Homo sapiens: one gene and its partners. The protein of the gene in region 2 purifies or fractionates together with the protein of the main gene of each other region. This does not show direct contact. Each region holds a gene or a part of one and is shown on either strand. Other genes may lie near its edges.

Evidence for each region.
Region 1: the proteins of SHKBP1 (region 2) and PLEKHA7 purify together in Homo sapiens (co-immunoprecipitation; one large-scale study listed by IntAct). This does not show direct contact.
Region 3: the proteins of SHKBP1 (region 2) and CREB3L2 purify together in Homo sapiens (co-immunoprecipitation; one large-scale study listed by IntAct). This does not show direct contact.
Region 4: the proteins of SHKBP1 (region 2) and CCP110 purify together in Homo sapiens (co-immunoprecipitation; one large-scale study listed by IntAct). This does not show direct contact.
Region 5: the proteins of SHKBP1 (region 2) and ASPSCR1 purify together in Homo sapiens (co-immunoprecipitation; 3 studies listed by BioGRID and IntAct, with this or other methods). This does not show direct contact.
Region 6: the proteins of SHKBP1 (region 2) and CC2D1B purify together in Homo sapiens (co-immunoprecipitation; one large-scale study listed by IntAct). This does not show direct contact.
Region 7: the proteins of SHKBP1 (region 2) and EOLA1 purify together in Homo sapiens (co-immunoprecipitation; one large-scale study listed by IntAct). This does not show direct contact.

What each region holds. Positions count from the first base shown.
Region 1 is NC_000011.10:16,776,797-16,780,414, forward strand, and holds the end of PLEKHA7 (pleckstrin homology domain-containing family A member 7), read right to left. Parts: intron 2,225-3,618; coding exon 2,202-2,224; 3' UTR 501-2,201; downstream 1-500. UniProt on the Homo sapiens protein: Required for zonula adherens biogenesis and maintenance. Acts via its interaction with CAMSAP3, which anchors microtubules at their minus-ends to zonula adherens, leading to the recruitment of KIFC3 kinesin to the junctional site.
Region 2 is NC_000019.10:40,589,385-40,591,897, reverse strand, and holds the end of SHKBP1 (SH3KBP1-binding protein 1), read right to left. Parts: intron 1,655-2,513; coding exon 1,476-1,654; intron 1,169-1,475; coding exon 1,045-1,168; intron 923-1,044; coding exon 691-922; 3' UTR 501-690; downstream 1-500.
Region 3 is NC_000007.14:137,874,479-137,877,282, forward strand, and holds the end of CREB3L2 (cyclic AMP-responsive element-binding protein 3-like protein 2), read right to left. Parts: 3' UTR 501-2,804; downstream 1-500. UniProt on the Homo sapiens protein: Transcription factor involved in unfolded protein response (UPR).
Region 4 is NC_000016.10:19,550,925-19,553,908, reverse strand, and holds the end of CCP110 (centriolar coiled-coil protein of 110 kDa), read right to left. Parts: intron 2,714-2,984; coding exon 2,638-2,713; 3' UTR 501-2,637; downstream 1-500.
Region 5 is NC_000017.11:82,008,629-82,012,128, forward strand, and holds part of ASPSCR1 (tether containing UBX domain for GLUT4), read left to right. Parts: intron 1-408; coding exon 409-563; intron 564-857; coding exon 858-939; intron 940-2,173; coding exon 2,174-2,240; intron 2,241-2,914; coding exon 2,915-2,977; intron 2,978-3,500. UniProt on the Homo sapiens protein: Tethering protein that sequesters GLUT4-containing vesicles in the cytoplasm in the absence of insulin. Modulates the amount of GLUT4 that is available at the cell surface. Enhances VCP methylation catalyzed by VCPKMT.
Region 6 is NC_000001.11:52,353,152-52,356,205, forward strand, and holds part of CC2D1B (coiled-coil and C2 domain-containing protein 1B), read right to left. Parts: coding exon 3,035-3,054; intron 2,694-3,034; coding exon 2,620-2,693; intron 2,516-2,619; coding exon 2,457-2,515; intron 2,299-2,456; coding exon 2,247-2,298; intron 1,789-2,246; coding exon 1,689-1,788; intron 1,548-1,688; coding exon 1,457-1,547; intron 497-1,456; coding exon 368-496; 3' UTR 367-367; exon of another isoform or gene 73-366; 3' UTR 1-72. UniProt on the Homo sapiens protein: Transcription factor that binds specifically to the DRE (dual repressor element) and represses HTR1A gene transcription in neuronal cells.
Region 7 is NC_000023.11:149,544,012-149,546,421, reverse strand, and holds part of EOLA1 (protein EOLA1), read right to left. Parts: exon of another isoform or gene 1,331-2,410; coding exon of another isoform or gene 1,294-1,330; intron 1,055-1,293; coding exon of another isoform or gene 922-1,054; intron 821-921; coding exon of another isoform or gene 792-820; coding exon 539-791; intron 1-538. UniProt on the Homo sapiens protein: May play a role in cell protection during the inflammatory response. In epithelial cells, negatively regulates IL6 production and apoptosis through the regulation of MT2A expression.

The DNA of each region.
Region 1 (3,618 bases), on a different chromosome or scaffold from region 2:
CAGCTCAGAAATATACACACCCCTCAATGGAACTGGCTTCTTGCCTTCTGTTGTGAGCATACATCACAAGTCAAAATGAATTAAATACAAATCCAGTTTGCAATGGTCCGTCACTAAGCTGCCTCCCAGGAGCGAGCCGGCAGCATGTGGGTTGGAAGGGGGCCCACAGCGTTCCCTGCGCTGTCTTGAATTGGACTGCAGTCTGTCTGACAAACCAGCCCCACAAGGGAGTCCACAGCCTGGTGGCTCTTTGACTGGGATGGGGTAGGGGGTTGCCTTGAGCAACTGTGGAAGCCTAGCCAGGGGCCCAGAAGCACAGGCCTCCTCAATCCAGGCCTCTACAGTCAATCAAATGTCAAGGAATCGTCACCAGAAGAAACTTTTCATAGGTAAATAGAAGCAGGGCCGAGAGCTGACAGTGGGGATTTTCCAAAGAAATGGAAACAAACGTACACAGGCCACTCACCAGAGACTATAGCCAGCAAGAAACAGGAAACGTATCAGGTTAATATTTTAATCTGTACATCACATTTTTTTTGCAAACCATTACATTTTTAAATTAACTTTTTCTTGCAAAATATTCATTTCATTTTTTCCAAGAAAATCTTATAAAGGCAAAAATAAAATTTTATTTTGGCAAATGTCATGAAGTCGATACTGGCAGCATATGGAGTTAGTTAAAAATAGACAACAACTGCTAGATATATTCAAAATTCTATTTTTTTTTCTGAGCATAGTCAAAGAGAAATTTTCATTTAAAGTGTGGCTCCACCCAATGGAGGTTTTCGTTGTTGTTGTTTTTTCCATTTAAACGTCATTGTTTATATGCAGAATAATATAAGAAAACAACTTAAATAAAGGGCCACAAACACTGCACCTGGCTTGGTAGCCCCCCTCCTCATGTGGGGCTGGAAGTCAAATCAAAGTCCTGCCATTATGGCCCTGCTGGCGGCAGGCCATGAGGGATGGTGGGGGCACACTGCTGCCCTCCTGCCACCAGACCTGAGTCCCAGGGAAGCCAATCCGGGGTTCTCCAAGGGCAGGCAGCAAAGGTTCCCATCATGGCCTGGTTAGAGGGAAGGGATTTCTAGGTAGATGTCACCCAGTGTGGAGTTTATTGCTACGATACAATGAAAGTTGCTTCCTCTCACCTTTTCTGTATTTCAATGTGTACTGTTAAAAATGAAAGCAGGCTGGGCGTGGTGGCTCACGGCTGTAATCCCAACACTTTGGGATGCTGAAGCGGATGAATCACCTGAGGTCAGGAGTTCGAGACCAACCTCACCAACATGAAGAAACCCCCGTCTCTACTAAAAATACAAAATTAGCCGGGCGTGGTGGCACATGCCTGTAATCCTAGCTACTTGGGAGGCTGAGGCAGGAGAATCACTTGAACCCAGGAGGCAGAGGTTGCAGTGAACCGAGATCGTGCCATTGCACTCCAGCCTGGGCAACAAGAGTGAAACTCCATCTCAAAAAAAAAAAAAGATAGCAAACTGCTTTTTTCTTTCTGACAAGAGCCTTTTGCTGGAGGAAGCCTGGGGGCAGGTTGTGGGCCCCAGTCCTCTTGAACACACTGTTGCCCCTAAGCCAAACCCAAGGGGCAAGGCACAGACTTGGGCTCCACGTGTGATCCTCGTGGAGTTTCACACAGAGCTGGTCATCAGGTCAGGGACAGCTGATCTCTGCAGCCAAGGGCCCCTCTTCTCCCAGACAGCACGCCAACCAGCCTCTTGCTGGAGTCTACTGGGAACACCTCTTTAAATCTCACTTTCTCCTGAGGTCATTGGAAGTTGGACTAGCCTCGGCTTGCCCCGCCCTTCCTGCCCCCACAACACCTGTCACCCAGAAGTACCTGAATCTGTACGTGCAGCTGCAAAGTCCTGCATCCTCAACCTTCCTGCCACTCAGCCCTTGAGGGGAACATTAGAAAATAGATTCCGATTCTAAAATACAGTGTATTTTACAGTGTATATCAAAAGTGCCTTTGCCATTCATATGTAGAGAGGAGTCTGAGCTAAACTAGTGGGTGCATATTAGGGCCTGGCCTGTGGTGAACACCCGCAGTCGGTAAGCTGCTCCTTCCTCCGGCCGGATTCCCTGCTCAGCTGGAAGGGGTTTCCTTGGGGGCAGAAAGGTCATCTCCTTGGAGGAAGCTGGTTCCACTGGGCCCCTGGCTCCAGGCTTCTTTGCATGCTGGGTCACGGGTCAGTCACTGCCTGGGCTGGCAAAAAGCACAGGAGACAGTGAGAGGCTGGCATCCAGGGAGCAGGCACGTCTGCACACACATGATGGAATGGCAGATAGGCGGACAGGCAGAGCAGCAGAGCAGGGGGCTCTGGCAATGCGGCCGCTGCTGGGGGACCCTCAGCTTCCAGGACACATGGGGCTCTTGCCCCACCCTCCCTGCACCCCTATTCCACTGCTAGACACATGCTGGCCCCTAAATTGGGTCCCCATCCCGACAGGGCAAAGACTCTAATAAAGGTGCAGTCTGGCCCTGCCCTTCATTCTTTCAATGTGGGTAGCGCTCTTGGCCTCTGTGGGCCTTGTTTTTCTAACCTAAAAAACATGGTGGTCATACCCACTTCTTAACAAGGATGCTTTGAGAGTAAGAAGAAATGCAGTACTCCAAAGAGTATAATAGGCCAATCTTACAGCCATGGGGGCACCAAAACCCAGGAGGAACAGAACCTCTCTCCTGCCTCTCTGTGACTGAGCGCTGTTACTGTGCTCAGATCTCTAGGAGAAAGCCACACCCTCAAATGTGGCCTTCACAATGGGCGTGGCTAGAGCACTTCCCTATGGCTCCTCAACCACGGGGCCTCTACTCCACACCTCCTCAGAGCCTGGCCCAAGGAGGCTGACCTCTTCCTCTCATGCTCAGGCTGGCGGGGACCTGCTGACTCTGCTGTGAGGCACGGGGAGCACCCAGGATAGACACCTGCCAAAAAATCATGCTTCGCTCCCTGCAGCACAAATACTCTCTCCCTCCTTTCACTTCTTTCTCCAAACACCTAGAGCTGCTCGGGGCGGCCCAGATGAACCCATGAGTGGTGATGGGGAACAAAGGCTCTGAACTCACATCAAAGGGGTTCAAACCCCAGCACTTAACAAGCTGCGATTCCTTGCGCATATCCCTCAAGGCCTCTGAGCTTTTGTTTTTTCATCTCTAAAACGGGGAGGGGGGGGGGAATATCTTCATAGGGTTGTTGTGTGGATCGAAAGAGATACTTAGCACAATGCCTGGCACACAGCAGGCACTCAACAATGTTAACCACAAGTATACGTAAAGGAAGGAGAGGGGAAAGCCCTGCAAAATGATAGTGGGATGGGATGTCAGGGTAAGGACTGCCCAGACTGGTAGTCTGACCTTCCCCTGTCCAGGTGAACCGCTGGGCTCAAAAGCAACAGGCCCAGGCCAAGAACTCACTTGAGACTGGACCAGATGCCAGCCTCCTGTTTCAGGGCTCCCTCCTCATCCCACACTGCCTCTCATCACTAGATGCCCACATGGGGAGAACTTGGTAGGGTTGGTGCCAGAGCTTTCTGCCTGGCTGAGGGCCAATTTCACATTGCCCTGGGCTTCCCTTTCTCTCCCTCTTAAAGTGCCCAGTG
Region 2 (2,513 bases):
GATATTCTGAATTAGTGTTTGAAGCCCCGGATCCAGCCATGCCTGAAGGCAGAGTAAAAGCCAACACATTCCTCCCCTGCAACACCTTTTTTGTTTTGTTTTGTTTTTGAGACAGGATCTCACTCTGTCACTCAGGCTGGAGTGCAGTGGTGTGATCATGGCTCACTGTAGCCTTGGCCTCCTAGGCTCAAGCGATCCTCCCACCTCAGCCTCCCAAGAAGCTGGGACCACAGGCATGCACCACCATGCCTGCTTAATTTTTGTATTTTTTTGTAGAGATGGGGTTTTGTTATGTTGCCCAGGCTAGTCTGAAACTTCTGAGCACAAGCAAACTGGCCTCCCAAAGTGCCAGGATTATAGATGTGAGCCACCATGCCTGGCCTCCCTTTGCTTAAACAAGAGAGGTAGATGTTCCTGATTTTGCATATATCGGGTTGGGTCCCACATCTTCCCCACCCCTTTCCTGGGGAGTCCCAAACCTGCTAAGAATAAGCAAGATGTTGGCAGTGAGGACTTTATTGGGGAGGGTGACTTTGGCTTCCAGAAAAGAGGGAAGGTGGGGACCTAGTAACAATAACCATTTATTCCAAGGAGGCCCTGGCCCTGAACCCGGGGTTCCCACAGGAATCAGGGAGGCACCTGAGTCCCCCAGGACCAGGGCATCCCAAGGCATCATGGCAGCTGCGTTGTTCAAAAGGAAGTTTCATTGAGCTTCATCTTGGGAGGTGTGAGGGGAGTGCCGAGACCGCTGGAGGGCCACGGGGCTGGTGTGGGTGGCCGTCGGAGGTCTGGCCCACTCCGCACCAGTTCCTGGCAGCGTTCCACAAAGCTGCCCCCACCACGGCGCCGGGCCTCAGCCTGCGGGGGGCTTGGGCTCCCACGGTGGCCAGACAAGGAGGTGTTGCTGGAGGCTGAGTGGAGGCTGAGGAAGTAAGGACAGTAAGTGCACGTCATCACGGGGCAGCTGGGCCACTCTGTCCCCGGGAACACCATGCTGTCCCCTCTCCCCTCATTGCACAGAAGGGGCAGTGGAGTTGTGGCTACCTGGTGAGGGAGATGCGGGGTGAGGGGCTGGGGAGACAGCCCCATGAGGGAGCTGAAGGAGCCGGCGGGGCCAGCTCACAGTGTTCCAGCTGTTCCATCAGCTCTTGCTCCGTCAGGCCACCTGCTGGGGGGCACGGAAGCAGGGTCAGGGGGCAAGACAGGGGTCATAGGGCAAGGGCCTGGGTTGCATTGCAGTGCAAGCACCGAGGGTCAGGACAGGAGAGAGGAAGCAGAGATCAATGCATGGGGGCCAGAGGCTGAGACAGGGGTTGAAAAACAAGGGCAGGAAGGGATGGGGAGCAGAGAGGGGGTCAAAGGAAAAGGGGTCAGAGGGCAAGGGCCTGGGAGAGAGATCAAGCAGTTGGCAGTGGAGAGTGGTTCTGGGTGAGGCTGTGGGGCTTGGGACGGGATTGGGGTGGGGCAGGGAGTACCAGGGGCCTGGCCGAGGCCGTCCATGGCGGTGGTTAGGTCCCACATGGCCAAGCTGCCGTTGGCCTGGCCAGTGAGCAGGTAGCGCCGGGGCCGAGAGCCGAGCCGCCGGGAGCCCTCGCACTCCAGCACTGTGAAGGCTGTCGTGGGTGAGCCGTCCACGGAGCGCACGGAGCACACCCTGGGGGGTGCAGTGGGGGAGGTGGTCACCCTCGCTTTCTCACCCTTCCTCGTCCCAGTCCCCACCACTGTGGCTGCAGTTCCTGCCTCTCCAGGGGCCATCCCAATCTTTATCCATCCCTAGCCTGCTTTTGAGTTCCAGTCCCAAGGGTCCAGCAGCTCTTGGACACCGCAGCCCCAAACACCCAGGGAGTCTCCCAGAGCTTCTGCTCTTCCCTGCTCCCACTGCAGGGAAGACCTGAGGCCCGTCCCAGCTGCTCCCCCACCTCCTATCAGCCTCCTGGCCTCCTCCCTGGGCTCCTGGCCTCCCATCAAGCCTCCTTTCATCCCCCATGCAGTGGCCACGGCTCCCCGCACAGGACAAAGCCTCAGCCCTTCCACAGCCTGACAAGGCCCGCCCGCATCTGCACCCCATCCTCACCTCCTGTTCTGTGCTCCAGCCCAGGAGCCCACGTGTCCTTCCCATGTGACCCTATTTGGCCCTTCTCAGCCTCTGCACATACAGTTCCCTCAGGCTGGGGCCCCCTTCCCCTGCCTTCTTTCTTCTGCTCCTTCCTACTTGTCCTCTAGGTCTCTGCTCAGAGTCCCTTCATCCAGAACATCCTCCGAGGCCCCTTTCCCAGCTGAAGCAAGGCTCCTACAGCTCCCTGGGTCTCCTCCATCCCATCCCGACCCCTGCCCCTGGTCCCCCTATCCCACCCCAACCCCTCCCCCTGGTCCCCCCATCCCACCCCGACCTCTCCCCCTGGGCCCCCATCCCACCCCTCCCCCTCCGCCTGGGCCCCCCATCCCACCCTGACCCCACCCCCTGTGCCTTCAACCTGGCCCTGCCTGCACTGGGCTGGCACTGCGCCAGGTCA
Region 3 (2,804 bases), on a different chromosome or scaffold from region 2:
TAATGGAACGAAGATTACTCTGCTTGAGTGCACTGACCTTTATCAACCATTTCATCAGAATTTCTGGAGCATGAATCTGTTAGACATCCTCTGCAACTGTTCGTAGGAAGAAGGATCATTCCTTTCTGGCTCAAGTCCAAAGGATCTTTCTCAAGCAACCAGAGATGGGGAAAGCAAAATCAAATCCACAGACAGTTGAAATCTAGTTAGGGAATAGTTAGAGGAGACAATAAAAATAACAGTCATGCTGCATAAGTCTCTAGAGGATACTGTTTTTCTTCCCGTGGCTGCCTGAAAAAACAATTACATTCTCAATATTCCTCCAACTAAGGCTTGGATTCAGTCCTATATAACATACCAATTGCTGGTTTGAGGCTCTTCTTTCAGGCCAAGTAGATATCCAGGAAAGAACGGTTCGGCACACATACACAAACCCATGTTCATAAAAAAACAACATGCTTTTCAAATTAGTACCAAGATTATAAAGACTGGGCAACATCTTACTATTTAAGAAAAAATATTTATTTGCAAGAAATGGAAATACAAAAGCATAACAATTTCAATTTATTTTTTTTTCCCAAACTAAGTACAAGTGTCCTACAAAGCTTTTTTTTTTTTTTGGTATTTACTTAGCTATGATAAAGAATAAAAAGTCATTTAAAAAACGCGATAGGACAGATAACAGACTCACAACGTATTTAGATTTAAACACTGCTGGTCTACGTAACCTGTTACAAAAGAGAGCAAAACCTAACTGTCAGCATAGACATTAAAGCTCACCGTTGATTATAGCTCAGGGCCTGCTCAGCATTGTTTAAAAAGGGTCACTCACAGTTTTGTCAAAGAGTGCTGGTGTTCTCTATGAACTCATAAACTGTTTTATCTGAAAAGGTGATTTTCTAAGTAGTGTAAGCCATGGGTACATGGTGCAAAAAGTTCATGTTCTCACTCAGCTGGTGAGCGAAGGATGGGAGCAGAGAACAGAGCTAAAACCCCTGGTTTTCCTTTCCCCAGATGTAAAGCCTGCTAGCTGGAACTCACAGAAGATTGGAACAAAAAGATAGGAGATGGACACCTGGGGGACTGCTCCAGCACGAAGGGAAGCGATGAGCATCACACAGCAGGGCCATTGCAGGGGACAGGTGCTGTAATTCCTGCCCAGAGAACTTGAAAGCTTACAGTGTGCTCACAGGAAGGAATCGGCTCAGCTAGTCCAGAAATTGCTGCATTTCCCATATTACTTAGTTCTTTATTCATCCTGTGGTAAAGAGTCACCCTTGTTTTCCGTATCTATAAAACTGAAAGACTTAAAATTTACTTAGCACAGCACGCAACACCCTAGTAAATGCTCAAGAAATATTATTTCCCTTCCTTCTAGAAACCAAGGCTAAATAAAACATTCCTGAATTTTATGTTGTCCAAAATAACAAAACAAAACAACACCTAGTTTTTTCCTGTGTTAAGTGCTGACCCTTTGACCACAAAGGCATGGAACATTAATCTTCAAATGAGCCAGGTTCCTTTGCCCTGAGAAATGTTCCGCTATGAGGATTTATAATACCTTTAATCCTGGCTGGTTGTTTTTTTGATGTGATTGCACTCCTGCAAACTGGGATTTTCCTAATGGACGTAACCCTATTTCTTTTCTCCTGATGTGCAAATCTGATAGTGGCTCACTTTTAGGAAACCACTTTTGAGCCTTCAGAAAAAAATTTTTCCCCACACCCAACTCAATCTAATAATAAAAGAATATATACAAAATCTCCCAGTGACGAGGGATTCCTCAGTCATCCTGGATTTACCTATAAGGCACATTTAAGGCACAAATGAGCATGTAAGGGAGGAATGTGCACGTGTGTGTGTGTGTGTGTGTGTGTGTGTGTGTGTGTGTCAGAGAGAGAAGAAGGGAGAGAGAAGTATAAGCATTTGGGTCTTTTGAATAACTATTATTAATGTTTCCTCAATCCCTTCTATTCCCCAATATTCCCTAGGGCCTCAGGCAACACTCTTCCTTATGAAACTGAAAAGTCTTAGGAGTAACTGAATGAGTGAGTGAATGAACGAAACATCTAAGTCTTGTCTCTGGATCCTTCACAGCCCTCACGTCACCACCACCTACTCTCTCCTGTAACTGCCCTCCCAGCGGGGCCTATCCTAGCATGTGTCTATGGATAGTCTCACCTGAAGGTGGCCAAATAAAATGACTCTCAAGAGGGCACTACCTGCCCATGGCTTCACAGGTCCAGCCAGCCCAGCAAGCAGAAGTGCTGGTGTCTTTAACCCAGGTTTCTTAAAGACTGGCTTCAATAGAACCAACTGTAGTGACTTGGGGCAGAGGAAGGGGAGGATGAAGGTCTTCTAGTGCATCTCTGCCCTCTCCGTGTTGGCAAGGTTGGCATGAATGGGCCATTATTCAACTGGGGGTGGGATGTCTCCATTTCTGGACTGTGCTCAAATTCACACCTTGTATGACATGTGGGCAGAGGAGCTGGCCTGGAGAGGCCTCTAATTCTGCCTCTACGCTTTTGCTGGGTCTGAGGACATGGGAGGGAGGAGCCATAAAATGCTGGAGAACAATTTTAAAAAACACTTATGAAAAAATGCTGGACACTTGACTCACTGCCAGAACAAAGAAGAGCCAATTCAACATCCCAACTTTACGGGCACGTAAGATTCACAAGCTGAACCAAGAGATTTAGGAAGAAAAAAAAAAACATGGTAATTATAAGGGGTCTGTGAATAAGTTAAACTAAAAGCTGCTTTCACAATCTACAAATTAGGCCTCCAAATCAAAATCATTTATA
Region 4 (2,984 bases), on a different chromosome or scaffold from region 2:
GTTTTGGAGACAAAGTCTCATTCAGGCTGGAGTGCAGTGGTGCGATTATAGCTCACTGCCACCTGTAACTCCTGGGTTCAAGTGATCCTCCTGCCTCAGCCTCCAGCGTACCTAGGACTACAGATGTGAACCACCATGCCTGGCTAATATCGGTTTCTTTTTTGTTTTGTTTTGAGATGGAGTCTTGCTCTGTCACCCAGGCTGCAGTGCAGTGGCACAATCTCGGCTCACTATAGCCTCCCCATCCCAGGCTCAGGCGATTCTCCTGCTTCAGCCTCCCAAGTAGCTGGAACTACAGGCATGCACCACTACGCCCAGCTAATTTTGTATTTTTAGTAGAGACGGGGTTTCACCATGTTAGCCAGGCTGATCTCAAACTCCTGATCTCATGATCCACCCACCTTGGCCTCCCAAAGTGCTAGAATTACAGGCATGAGCCACCATGCCCGGCCTATTTCTTAATAGTCCTTCCCCTGGTAAATAAAAACAATCAAACTAGATTTTCTTTAAGATGAAAAGTTTATTTTGCTTTTTGCCTAGAAGCAAAACTAGTGAAAATAAAAGTATAAAAATAAATACAATTTACATTAATGAACATTCCACTCAAAGTAAAAATAAGCAAAAAAAGTATATAAATAAAAATCCATCAAAAGCACAAACAGTGTCTGGCACCTGTATGAGAAGAAGCTATGAACACCAAAAAAGAATGTGTAAAACACAGGCTTTTATCTTTAAATTAAAAACACTCAAGTTTCTCATCCTTACTCTAAAGCTAGTTTTAACTTTCTCCAAAACTATTTGTTTTAACTAATTTGCATTACACACACAAAAAGTGCACAAAACTTTTAGCATCTTTCTTACTGGAGAGACCCACAATGCTATGAATAAGCTGTATCCTGAGTTTTCAGAATGATAAAGCACAGTTTATCATATTAAGAAGACAATTTGATACTTTGCCTATAAATTTTAAAAAATTGGTAACTTGGACTTTTTTTGACCATCTTCTAATTTTCTGGTTCACTCATTCAATACATGATACATCTCAATAAAGAAAATCAAGTTTACACCCAGGGTGGCTTATTATTTCTGTCTATAGCTGGATGTCAAAGTTAAATTTAAAATGGCACAGAAAATTGGAGAAAACAATCTTCATCTCCATATTCTTAAAAGGATATTAAGAATATATATAGGTTGCATTTTCAAAATACCAGTATCTCTTTAAAATTTAAATTAGATTAAATATACACTGTCTCAATTTTATGTGAAAAGCACAAAGCCCTTTTTGGAAATGGTATGATAAATTAATAGTGACATTCTCCCTCATGAAGTCACGTTATCTTGGTAACATTTGTTGGTTGATACTTTTTTTTTTTTTTTTTTTTGAGACAGTGTCTTGCTCTGTTAACCCGACTGGAGTGCAATGGCACAGTCTCAGCTCACTGCAACCTCTGCCTCCCAGGTTCAAGCAATTCGCCTGTCTCAGCCTCCCAAGTAGCTGGAACTACAGGCATGCACCACCATGCCTAATTTTTGTATTTTCAGTACAGATGGGGTTTCGCCATGTTTGGTCAGGCTGGTCTCAAACTCCTGACCTCAGGTGATCCACCCACCTTGGCCTCACAAAATGCTGGGAGTACAGGCGTGAGCCACCCTGCCTGGCCAGTTGATACTTTTAATGGATATGTTAGTGATGAAAAATCTTAAACATGGGTGTCTTTAAGCAATGCAGAATTTTAACCAGGCAATATTCTTATCCGGAAATCTGGATTTATTATTATATAGCCCTTTATTCTCTCCTAAATCAAGCATGCTAGAAAAAACAGACTATGAAGAACAAAATATACAGACTAAATAGAAAATATAACTGCATGCAACATATTATTATGTTACAGAAATGGATGTAATAATGCATTCCCAAGAGCTACATTCAAGAAGATTGTGCTGTCTTCCCCAAATTTGTTACCTGTCACAGAAAGATCTTATAACCTAGTACAAATGTTTCTAACAGTACTGGGGTAACATACATGAAGCCTAACATTTCTGTCAGACAACTAGTTGTCTGACAGGAATGTATGCTTCTGACCAAAATGGTGACCCACATTAACTTCTGTAGATTTTAGTGGGCCACAATTGGCTACATGGTTATACTGTAAGTCAAAGAAAGTGGACATTGAGTGGTTAATCCAAGTTTTTAAAGTTATAAAATGAGGGAAAGGCATTCTTCTGCAATAATTTCCCTTTGAATCAAATTCAAAAATCACTATGCAGAGATGAATTAAATTTATGTTTTAGAACTTATTTATAATTTGTCTTATCTTTTCAATATTCTGTAAAAGTAAATCCAAATGTCCTTGACATTTACAAAAAGGGTCTCTGTAGACATCTGGGCATATAAAATAAACTTATGTTTGTATAGGTAAGCACAGAGATGATGCAATTACTAAACACTAATTTGTCTTCACCCAAACGTATTATTAAGAGGAAAATAGGGGTGTGGAGCAGGAATTACCAAACTGACCAAATGATCCAGATAAGTGCTCAGCCTTCTGATGTCACTTTGTCTGTGTAAACGGAGTCCAGGGTTAAATAAAGTCTTGGGCAGGGAAAATAACATGAATAATAATCCTTCCCCCCATTTTATCCTAATGAATGTTGTCTTCTTAAATTGTCGCAACATTTGGCCGCTTTCTTTGGATTTTTCCTGCATATACTCCTAAAAATAGAGCAAAACCAGTATTACTTCTCAATGGGAGGTTTTCTATAATGATACCATTTAATGAGTTTTTACTCTGGAACAAACACTGAGCTAGGCAATATACATTATCATATTTAATCCTTATATGAATCATCCTGAGGTAGAAATTGTTATGACCATTTTAAGGATAATAAAACTGAGGCATAGGAGAGCAGTTGCCTAAGGAACAGAGCTAGAAGGAAGAACTCTGATAACCCAAGTCCACCTGATGTGTTATTTTACTTAACCA
Region 5 (3,500 bases), on a different chromosome or scaffold from region 2:
CTGTGGCCAAGAGGGCAGCGGGGGCAGCTGGACTGGGGTTTTTGCCGACGCTCTAATTTGGCGGCTGTCGCCACCCCTCCCCCCCATGGAGACCCTGACGTGGCCTGAGCCAGACTCCAGGGGCCATGTGCCCTGCTGGGGAGCAGGGGCTCAGCATCAGGTCTGGTGCACTGACTGGGAGAGGGGGGTCTCCAGCCCTGGACAGGCTCTGAGTGGGGTGGGGTCCCCCAGCTGCTGTGCCCAGCCCTGCCCCCAGGACCTGGCCTTGGCCCTGCGCTGGCCGGGGCCAGGGAGGGAGTGGGCCCAGCTCCCAAGTCTGTGTGACCACCTCGGCTGGGGCACTGACAGCCCGGGGTGCGGAGGGCCCAGCCCGTGACACCCGCCGTCAGCCGCGCCCTCTGCCTCCAGCCCGTGGACCGGGAGCCCGTGGACCGGGAGCCGGTGGTGTGCCACCCCGACCTGGAGGAGCGGCTGCAGGCCTGGCCAGCGGAGCTGCCTGATGAGTTCTTTGAGCTGACGGTGGACGACGTGAGAAGACGCTTGGCCCAGCTCAAGAGTGAGCGGTGGGTGCCCCCTCAGTGCCTCCCGGCATCTTCGCGCCAGGGTTTGCCCCATCGGGTGCTTGTGCTGCCCGCTGTCCCCAGTGCCAGCACTGGCTCCCGGCCCAGGTCCCTGACAGGCTGCCCTTAACAGGACCTCAGAGGGTTGGGGCCCAGGGAGGGGCGTCCAGACCTTCCTGCCTTGTGTGGGGAGAGCAGCCCACTCCCACCCTGGAGGGTGCAGGTGAGGAGCCCGGGGCCTGTTGCCAGGGCCCCCATTCTGACCAGAAGCCCTGTTCCTTCCCCTCCTCACCACAGGAAGCGCCTGGAAGAAGCCCCCTTGGTGACCAAGGCCTTCAGGGAGGCGCAGATAAAGGAGAAGCTGGAGCGCTACCCAAAGGTCTGCAGACAGGATGTGGGGGCGACTGAGGCACAGCTCTGAGGGGGCCCCCCGTGAGGTCTGTGGACGGGATGGGGCGACTGAGGCACAGCTCTGAGCGGGCCCCCTGTGAGGTCTGTGGACAGGACGTGGTGGCGACTGAGGCACAGCTCTGAGCGGGCCCCCTGTGAGGTCTGTGGATGGGACGTGGGGGCGACTGAGGTACAGCTCTGAGGGGGCCCCCTGTGAGGTCTGTGGATGGGACGTGGGGGCGACTGAGGCACAGCTCTGAGCAGGGCCCCCCCGTGGTGGCGCGCATGCCCTTAGTGGCCAGTTGATCCTCCCCTGCTCATGATTTAGAATGAAACCTTTTTTTTTTTTTGAGACGGAGTCTCTCTCTGTCGCCCAGGCTGGAGTCAGTGGTGCCATCTCAGCTCACTGCAAGCTCCGCCTCCCGGGTTCAAGTGGTTCTCCTGCCTCAGCCTCCCAAGTAGCTGGGATTTCAGGTACCCGCTACCACTAGCTCGGCTAATTTTTGTTGTTTTTTTTTTTTTTACTAGAGATGGAGTTTTACCATGTTGGCCCGGCTGGTCTCGAACTCCTGACCTCAGGTGATCTGCCCGCCTCGGCCTCCCAAAGTTCTGGGATTACAGGCTTGAGCCACCACACCTGGCTGAATGAAACTTTAAACAGCACATTTGAGCCGGGCGTGGTGGCTCACGCCTGTAATCCCAGCACTTTGGGAGGCCAAGGTGGGCGGATCATGAGGTCAGGAGATCGAGACCATCCTGGCTGACACGGTGAAACCCCATCTCTACTAAAAATACAAAAAATTAGTCAGGAGAGGTGGCGCACGCCTGTAGTCCCAGCTGCTCGGGAGGCTGAGGCAGGAGAAAGGCGTGAACCCGGGAGGTGGAGCTTACAGTGAGCCGAGATCATGCCACTGCACTCCAGCCTGGGCGACAGAGTGAGACTCCATCTCAAAAAAAAAAAAAAAAAAAAAAAACCAGCACATTTGAACCCAGGTCAGTGTGGTTTTAGAACGCAGGCCGCTGTGCACACACACGGCACTTGGCTGTCTCCATGCCCAGCCTGCCACGGGGGAGTCAAAGCCCAGGCCCTGATTGGGGGTGGCTGCTTCTGCCTGCCTCAGCCCTGGTGTCCATGGCCCAGCATGGGCCGAGTGGGGAGGCCACGCCCTGGTCCCTGGTGCAGCTCCGGCCGTCCCTCCAACCCTTCCACTTGTCTGGCCTAGGTGGCTCTGAGGGTCCTGTTCCCCGACCGCTACGTCCTACAGGGCTTCTTCCGCCCCAGCGAGACAGGTGGGCAGCGCTGTGGGGTGTCCGGGGATGGGGGGCAGGGGCCCATGGGGCCTCTCCCGGCTCCTTCCTTCCAGGCCACAGGACTGCAGCCACCTGGCCTGCGGGCTCCAGGGCACTGGGTGGGTGCGGGTGCTGATGTCCCCTTGGGGGTGCAGAGGCATCCCAGTTCGCAGAGTGTCAGGCAGGCTGGGCGCTTGCTCCAGGTGCCCGGCCCCAGCTCAGGGAGCCCGTGGTCCTGAGTGCTCACGTCGCCCACCTACTGGGCATGGGTGGGGCAGAGGGGCACCCAGAGGAAGGCACCCTACCCCGGGAGGAGGGCAGTGGTGCTGTGACATTCAGGGGCTTGTGACCTGTACCCAGACGGCCGGGCGGCAGCAGCCCAAGGTCACAGGGGCCTCCCCCAGGGAAAGGGAAGCGCTTAGGCTGGGGCGGGGGTGGGGCTGGGGGGCAGCGGGTGGCAGTGGGAGTGCTCTCCAGCAGGGCGGGGGTCCCAAGTGTGGCCCGCACGGTGGCCCAGCCACGCCGAGCACCTGGAGTGCTGTGGGAGGAACAGGGCTGAATTCCCACCCCTCGGGGAAAGGCCCAGGAGGGTGGGAGCAGTGGCCCAGGTGCTGGGGCAGCCCGGGGCTGGCGTGGTGGAAGAGCTGTCTGTATGTTCTTTTTCTCCTCTGCAGTGGGGGACTTGCGAGACTTCGTGAGGAGCCACCTGGGGAACCCCGAGCTGTCATTTTACCTGTGTACGTTTTTTCTCCTGAGCCCACTCCTGCCTCCAGTGCTCGGGGCCTTGGTGCTGTGGGCACACCGCCCGTCCCAGCTGGGGCTCGTGGCAGCTTCTCCACAGGAGCAGCATCTGTGGCCTCCCGCCCAGGTGCCTCCTGCAGCCCATGGTGTCTGTGTGGAGACCTAGGAGGGCCCTTCTCCCCGAGCCAGGCGGTGGGAGCCAGGCTTCCTGCCTTCTCTCTCAGCGCCCTGCTCCCCTCTGGAGCCCTGCTGCACCCCAGCCTGGTCCCCACCCCTGGGGCTCAGGCCACTCCTGCCCGAGGGCTGTGGGAAGGGTGGGTGGACAGGGAGTGGCTGGCCTCCCTTGGAGGGTGTCTAGGTGGCAAAGGGTTAGGCTGCCCACTGCAAGGGGAGCCGGGCTGCACGGGTGGTGTCCCCTGCAGGTGGGCCTGCCCCCCACCGGCCCTTCCGAGCCCTCAGCTGGAGTTTCTGCAGCAGGAGTGTGGGCACAGGGCGTGCTCGTGAGGGGCTCTTCTGCCC
Region 6 (3,054 bases), on a different chromosome or scaffold from region 2:
AAGCCAGCAAAGCTGGGAAAGTCATCTCCTGCACAGTCGCGGCCTGACTCCTCTCCTGGTGCTGGCCATCGGCTACACAGGGGTGCAAAGCACAAGAAGTCAGTCTAAACTGCAGTGAAAACACAAAGATTTTAGAAAGGGTTTCCTGAAGATAGATAGATAGATAGATAGTTAAACCTTGGAAGGTTACCTTCTCTTCCCAGTTCTACTGAGGAACATCAGAAACTCAGCCCATAAGCCCTACCCAGCATGGTAGGTCTTTCTCATAGATGAGAAACTCCTAGGTTTTCTCTCCAGATATGAGTTGAGTAGTTAGTTGAGTAAAAGGAGGGGGCAAAGGTTCTGAAGGCCCAGAGAGCTGCCCACCTCACAAGCCCCTGGGCTCCAGAACCAGCCAGTTCTCAGTGACCATCTGCACATCCTGGCCACTCAGAGGCTCCCGCAGCCTCACCTTCACCTCCAGCTTCCCCCCGGTGGGCTTCCTTCCATCCAGGACCTGTGAGGACCACAGAGAGGGAAATGGTAACTAAGGGGACAGAGATGGGGAGCAGGCAGGTCCCTACATTCCCAGGAAAGAAGTGAGAGGAGCTAAGATGTCCTGTGGCATGAACACAGGAATCTCCATTCATGAAAACCCTACCCTCCCAGTATTTGGAGGAGGAGGTGGTGGTGGTTTTAGGTGAGTCTTATTAAAAAAGTAATAAATAAATCCAGACAAGCATCCTAGAGCTCTGTTCATTTTCTCCTCAATCCCCACGGCAACTTCTGGAAGAAACATTGGCTTGAAGAAGCAGCCTTCCACTGACCCAAACCCTCACTTCACAGATGGCCAAGAGAGAGAAGCAGATGACTCTATGTGGCAGAGTCAGCACTGGAACCCCAAACCCAGGGTTCCTTCCCATTCACCACGCTACTCCCTCTTTTGGGCAGAAGATGAGGCAGTCAATTAGGGCACAAAGCAGTACAATAGGCCCAAGAAGTCCAACCACCCTCAGTGGCTCCAATAGAGACCAGGGCCCGCATAAGAACAACTTCCCCAGGCAGGCAGTAGGGCCAGGTGTGCTACAGTGGGAAGAGCCCCAGCCTACATAGGTTATCAGTAAGGAGCTGGTCGTAGCTCTGCCAAGGACACACCATATGAGCTTACAGAACCCCCTTTCCTCTCGGACCTGAGTTTCCTCATTTGTCAGAGGCAAGGTCGTATAGTCCTTGCCTGTGGAATCCATTGAGTTCATGGAAACAAGGAGGCTGCCTTCTCCTGGGTCCCTCTGTGAGATTTCTCAGACCTTCTGAACCTCTCCATCTGTGAAATGAGGATTCCACCTACTCTAAGCACACTTGTGGAGAATTTCAAATTAAGTAATGAGCACGAAAACCTACAACAAGGTGTGGCATTCAGTGCGTATTGGCTCTTGTCGTACCAACCCCTTTGGCTTGCCCACACCCCAGCCCCTACCTCCACAATTTCTCTGATCTCACACTCATTCTCCAGCCGCTCCAGTTTCAGGTGTGCTGTGCCAACCAGCTTGTCGCTTCTGAAGAAGGACCTGGGGAGTCAAGAGGCAGCAGAGGATTGGACTGGGCAGGGAAGGCAGGAATGTGCTGGCTGAGCCCATGCAGGGGCAGCAGTGACAAACGCTCTTCCCTCCTCCCGGCCCGTGTGGCAGCATGACCGATAGGAGCCTCACCCTTTGTGGAAGATCTCAAACTTGATGCCTTTGCTCTGGATCACCCTCTTGAAGCCCCGGTGGTTTCGGTTGATGTTTAGTTTGAAGAGTTGATCAAATTCTGGCAAAGGGGGAGAAAGCAAGGAGGGGCTTGGCTCTCGGGATTTCCTGAGGAAGTGGAAATGGAGGCCCAGGGCTGGCTGCCTTCCCCCAATCTCTCCACCTGCATTTTGGGGTACTGCCTCCAAAGGGTGGTAGAGCATCGCGGTCCTGGCCTTGGAAGTGAGTTTTTGTACTCTTTTTAGTCATAGATTGTAACAAAGTAGGAAAGACTTGGAATTGGGATACAGAATTCCTGTGTTCATATCCCATTTCTACCACTTCCTTGCCATGAGGCCCCAGGCAAGTCCCTGTACCTCTCTGCGTGTTTCTCCAACTACAGAAGAAGCATGTTAACAGCACCTTTATCTCCCAAGTGGGGTGGATCAAGTAAGGGCATAGATGGGAACCCACTCTGGAAACACCAGTGCTGCCCACACACTCTGAGGGAGGAGAAAGAGGCCCACGTGTGGCCCTCACCTGGAGAGTTTGTGTTCTTCACCACAGCTGTTTTGCTTTTTTGAGCCTGGTCCTAAGCAGTGAGGAGGGAGAAGTCAGGACAGCGTATAAACAAAGAGGCACACAGGGCAGGCACTGCAGCCACACCTCCCAGGGATGGGAAGAAAGTGAGCACAGGGTCCTGGAATGCAAGGCGGGTTTCAGAGGATCCTACTTCTACCTGAACCTCACCGAGTTAGGGTAGTGAAACTCAAACCGCACAAAAGCATCCAGGTCATCGGGAGTCACCCCTGGGAAGGAGAAAAGGGAGTCAAGTCAGAGGGAGTGGCCAGGAGCCTAGCACTTGGAGTGTCCGGGCAAGAGCCTCCTGGAGTAGGGGCGGCCCTAGGGTTACCTGGAGGGGCTGGGAGGTTCATTCCCCGGACAATGATCAGATGCATTTCTGTGCTGTTGAGTTCTGAGAAGATCCTAGAGCCAAGCGGGAAGGAGAAAATGCTCAAAAGTGAAGGACAGTAGTGGAACAAGGTCCCTTCGTCCAGGGCCTGTCTGCCCAGCTGGGTGGTGACGGGAGGGAAGGCAGAGCTGGTATGCAGACCTTGATCTCTGACTTCTGGTCCAGAGCTCTTTCCACAGCACCCAGACAGCTGTGCGCTCTCCACTAGCATGCACCCTGTCGTCCTCAGCAGCCCCAGTGCCCACAGCGGGGCCAGGCTTGGGAAGCCTCACTAAAGGGGTAGCAGTCTCTGGCCTGGGCTCCCAGCCTCCTGCCCCTCCCTGCCTGGAGCCCCTGTTTCCCTAGGCCTTGGTACCTCACAGTCTGGAATGTCTT
Region 7 (2,410 bases), on a different chromosome or scaffold from region 2:
ACTGCCTGGGAAGCTACAGGTGATGCCTGAGCAGGTCACCAGGGGACAGATGCTGATGTCGGGCCTCAGTCACCTAGAGGTTAGGGGACTTTCCCAGGGTGCTGTGAGTGGTGGGGCTGGGGCAGGTTCATGAAGCCAGGCGGGCAGCCCAACTCTAGAGGCCACCTGACCCATTCGGCGGGCTGGGCTGCTTTTCATGGTCTCTGCCACACATGTGCACTCACACATGTATGTGCAAATACACACAGCCAAACACCACAAACACCATGTGCACATGGCCCTGACCAGGCTTCTCACTGAGATCAGAAACAGGAACTGAGGCCCAGAGTGGAGAAATGATTTACCAGAACTCGTGGAAGCCAGCCATACCAACCCCCAGCCCAAGGTCCTTGCCGCCCCTTTGAAGGTGTGTTGCCAAAGGAAACTGTGTTATACACGCCAATCAGTTCAGATGACAAGAGAAGCCCCCAAATTCCCAAGCAAGATCTTGGGCAGCAGCCCTAGGCGTTGTCTGCGCATTTGGTACATTGTCACTTACCCGCTATCACTCCTCGACCAAACTTTTCCCCTTTCCTGAGCAAGGCCTGAATCTGAGCAGGAGTCATCCCGAGTCTCTCCACCAGCAGCTCCCGCCAGGCATCGCCTTCCCAGTCCCTGTGAGCAATGTGGACGGCGATGGTACAGTTCCGCTGGCTGCTCAGCAGGGGACGCCAGCGCGTCTCCACAGTCTTGATTCCATTTAAGACAAAGCCAGCATAAGGCTGCCGGAAGGAGAGGCAGCCAAACTTCATCTTCGCAAGCGCCCCGGGCCTCCCGTAGCCTGCGGAAGCACAGAAGCGCATCACACGCCAGCCCTCCAAGCTCATGGGCAGTGGCCTGACCTTCCCCCCGTGTCTCTCAGGTGGCCTAAATCGCACTGACCTTGATGGTCTCCTGCTTCCGTCTGTCACTGATGTCCAGCACCACAGCAGGCCCAAGGGAAGGGGCTGGGATTCGGCTGACTCAGGTCCATCCCATGGAGTCTTTGGGGCGGTCCGGAGTAGGGCGGGGACAGCTAGAGGAAGGCACAGGCAGGATACCATGTGGTCAGTGCTATGACAGAGGTCACCGAGCCCTAGGGCAACACAGAGGACAGAGGGCCCCCTTGGCCTAGCCAGAGTGGAGAGTCCGGGCTGGTGTTAGCCCTCTTCCAGCACAGAGGGAGAGTCCCACCCTCTGCTTCTCTTCCCTTTCCCCTGCTGTGCCCTGCCAATACTCTCAGTGCCCTGGCCCTGCCGCCACCAAGGCACTGACCTTCCCAGCTCCTACTCCAGGGCTGCTGAGCCCACATCGTTGATATCCAATCTCAGCTCTGTCCTCAGGATGCACCGTGACCTCAGATGGCCCTCAGTCAGACATCTCCTCTCCACCCCTCTGGGTGCCACCTTCCTCAAGCCCCTTCCCCTACCACTGCTCTCCACTGTCAGCAGATGCCCCTGTCCCAATCTGAGCTGAGAAAAGAAGAATGATAATCAGAACAACTAGCAACCCCACACACATGCCTTCCACGTGCCAGCCTCTGGGATGGCATGATCCTCGGATCATCAAATTGAATCTTCAAGTAACCCAGCAGGGTCAGTGGTACTGTGAGGCCCACTCTATGGCTGAGGAGAATGAGGCACCAGCCCACAGTCACACGGGCTCTGACTTCCCACAACTCTTGCCCAGCCTCCTGCGTGTCTGGCTTGGGAGAGGGTCCCCTCCTCTTGCATGGAGGACGGCCCTGTGCCTTGGAAGGAACCCTGGGCTCGAAACCAGAACCTCAGCCCAGTCATAGACTCTTGAGATGCCTCAGTTTCCACATGGCTGTGAGGAAGGGAGATAAGGCACCAAGAGCACCCAGCCCAGTACGTGGCACCTAATAGAACAGTCAGAAATAGTGGCTGCCCTCACCCCTCAGGCCCGTGGCCCCGCCCCCGGCCCTGAACTCCACCCTTGAGCTGCCCCTACTCCTCTCTCTGTCCTTCCTTTCAACACATAAACGCAACCTCTAGTACGCTCTATGATTTTAAGAAAATATACCCACCCTCATGAGACAAAGCCCTGATAGGGCCAAAGCTGCCTGGTATTCACTCCTTTCCCAGTCTGCACTGCAGCCTTCTGAGCTCCAGATCTCCTGCTTTTCTCCCGCCTCTGGGGTGAGCTGCCTCAGCTGAGCCGGTTGCCTGCTGTGCTCTGGACCCTGCTCCTCTGGCTCACTCCGGGCCCTGGGTGCCACCAGCCACCATCTATGCTCGCTCAGCATCCCTACTCTGAGCACACGCGCGCCTCCCACTCTGCCTCCCTTCTCTACAACCCTGAACAGCCGAGACCTCAGAAGAGCTGTCTACATGCGCAGTCTCTACTTCCTCTCTGAACCTTCTGCCCCCAC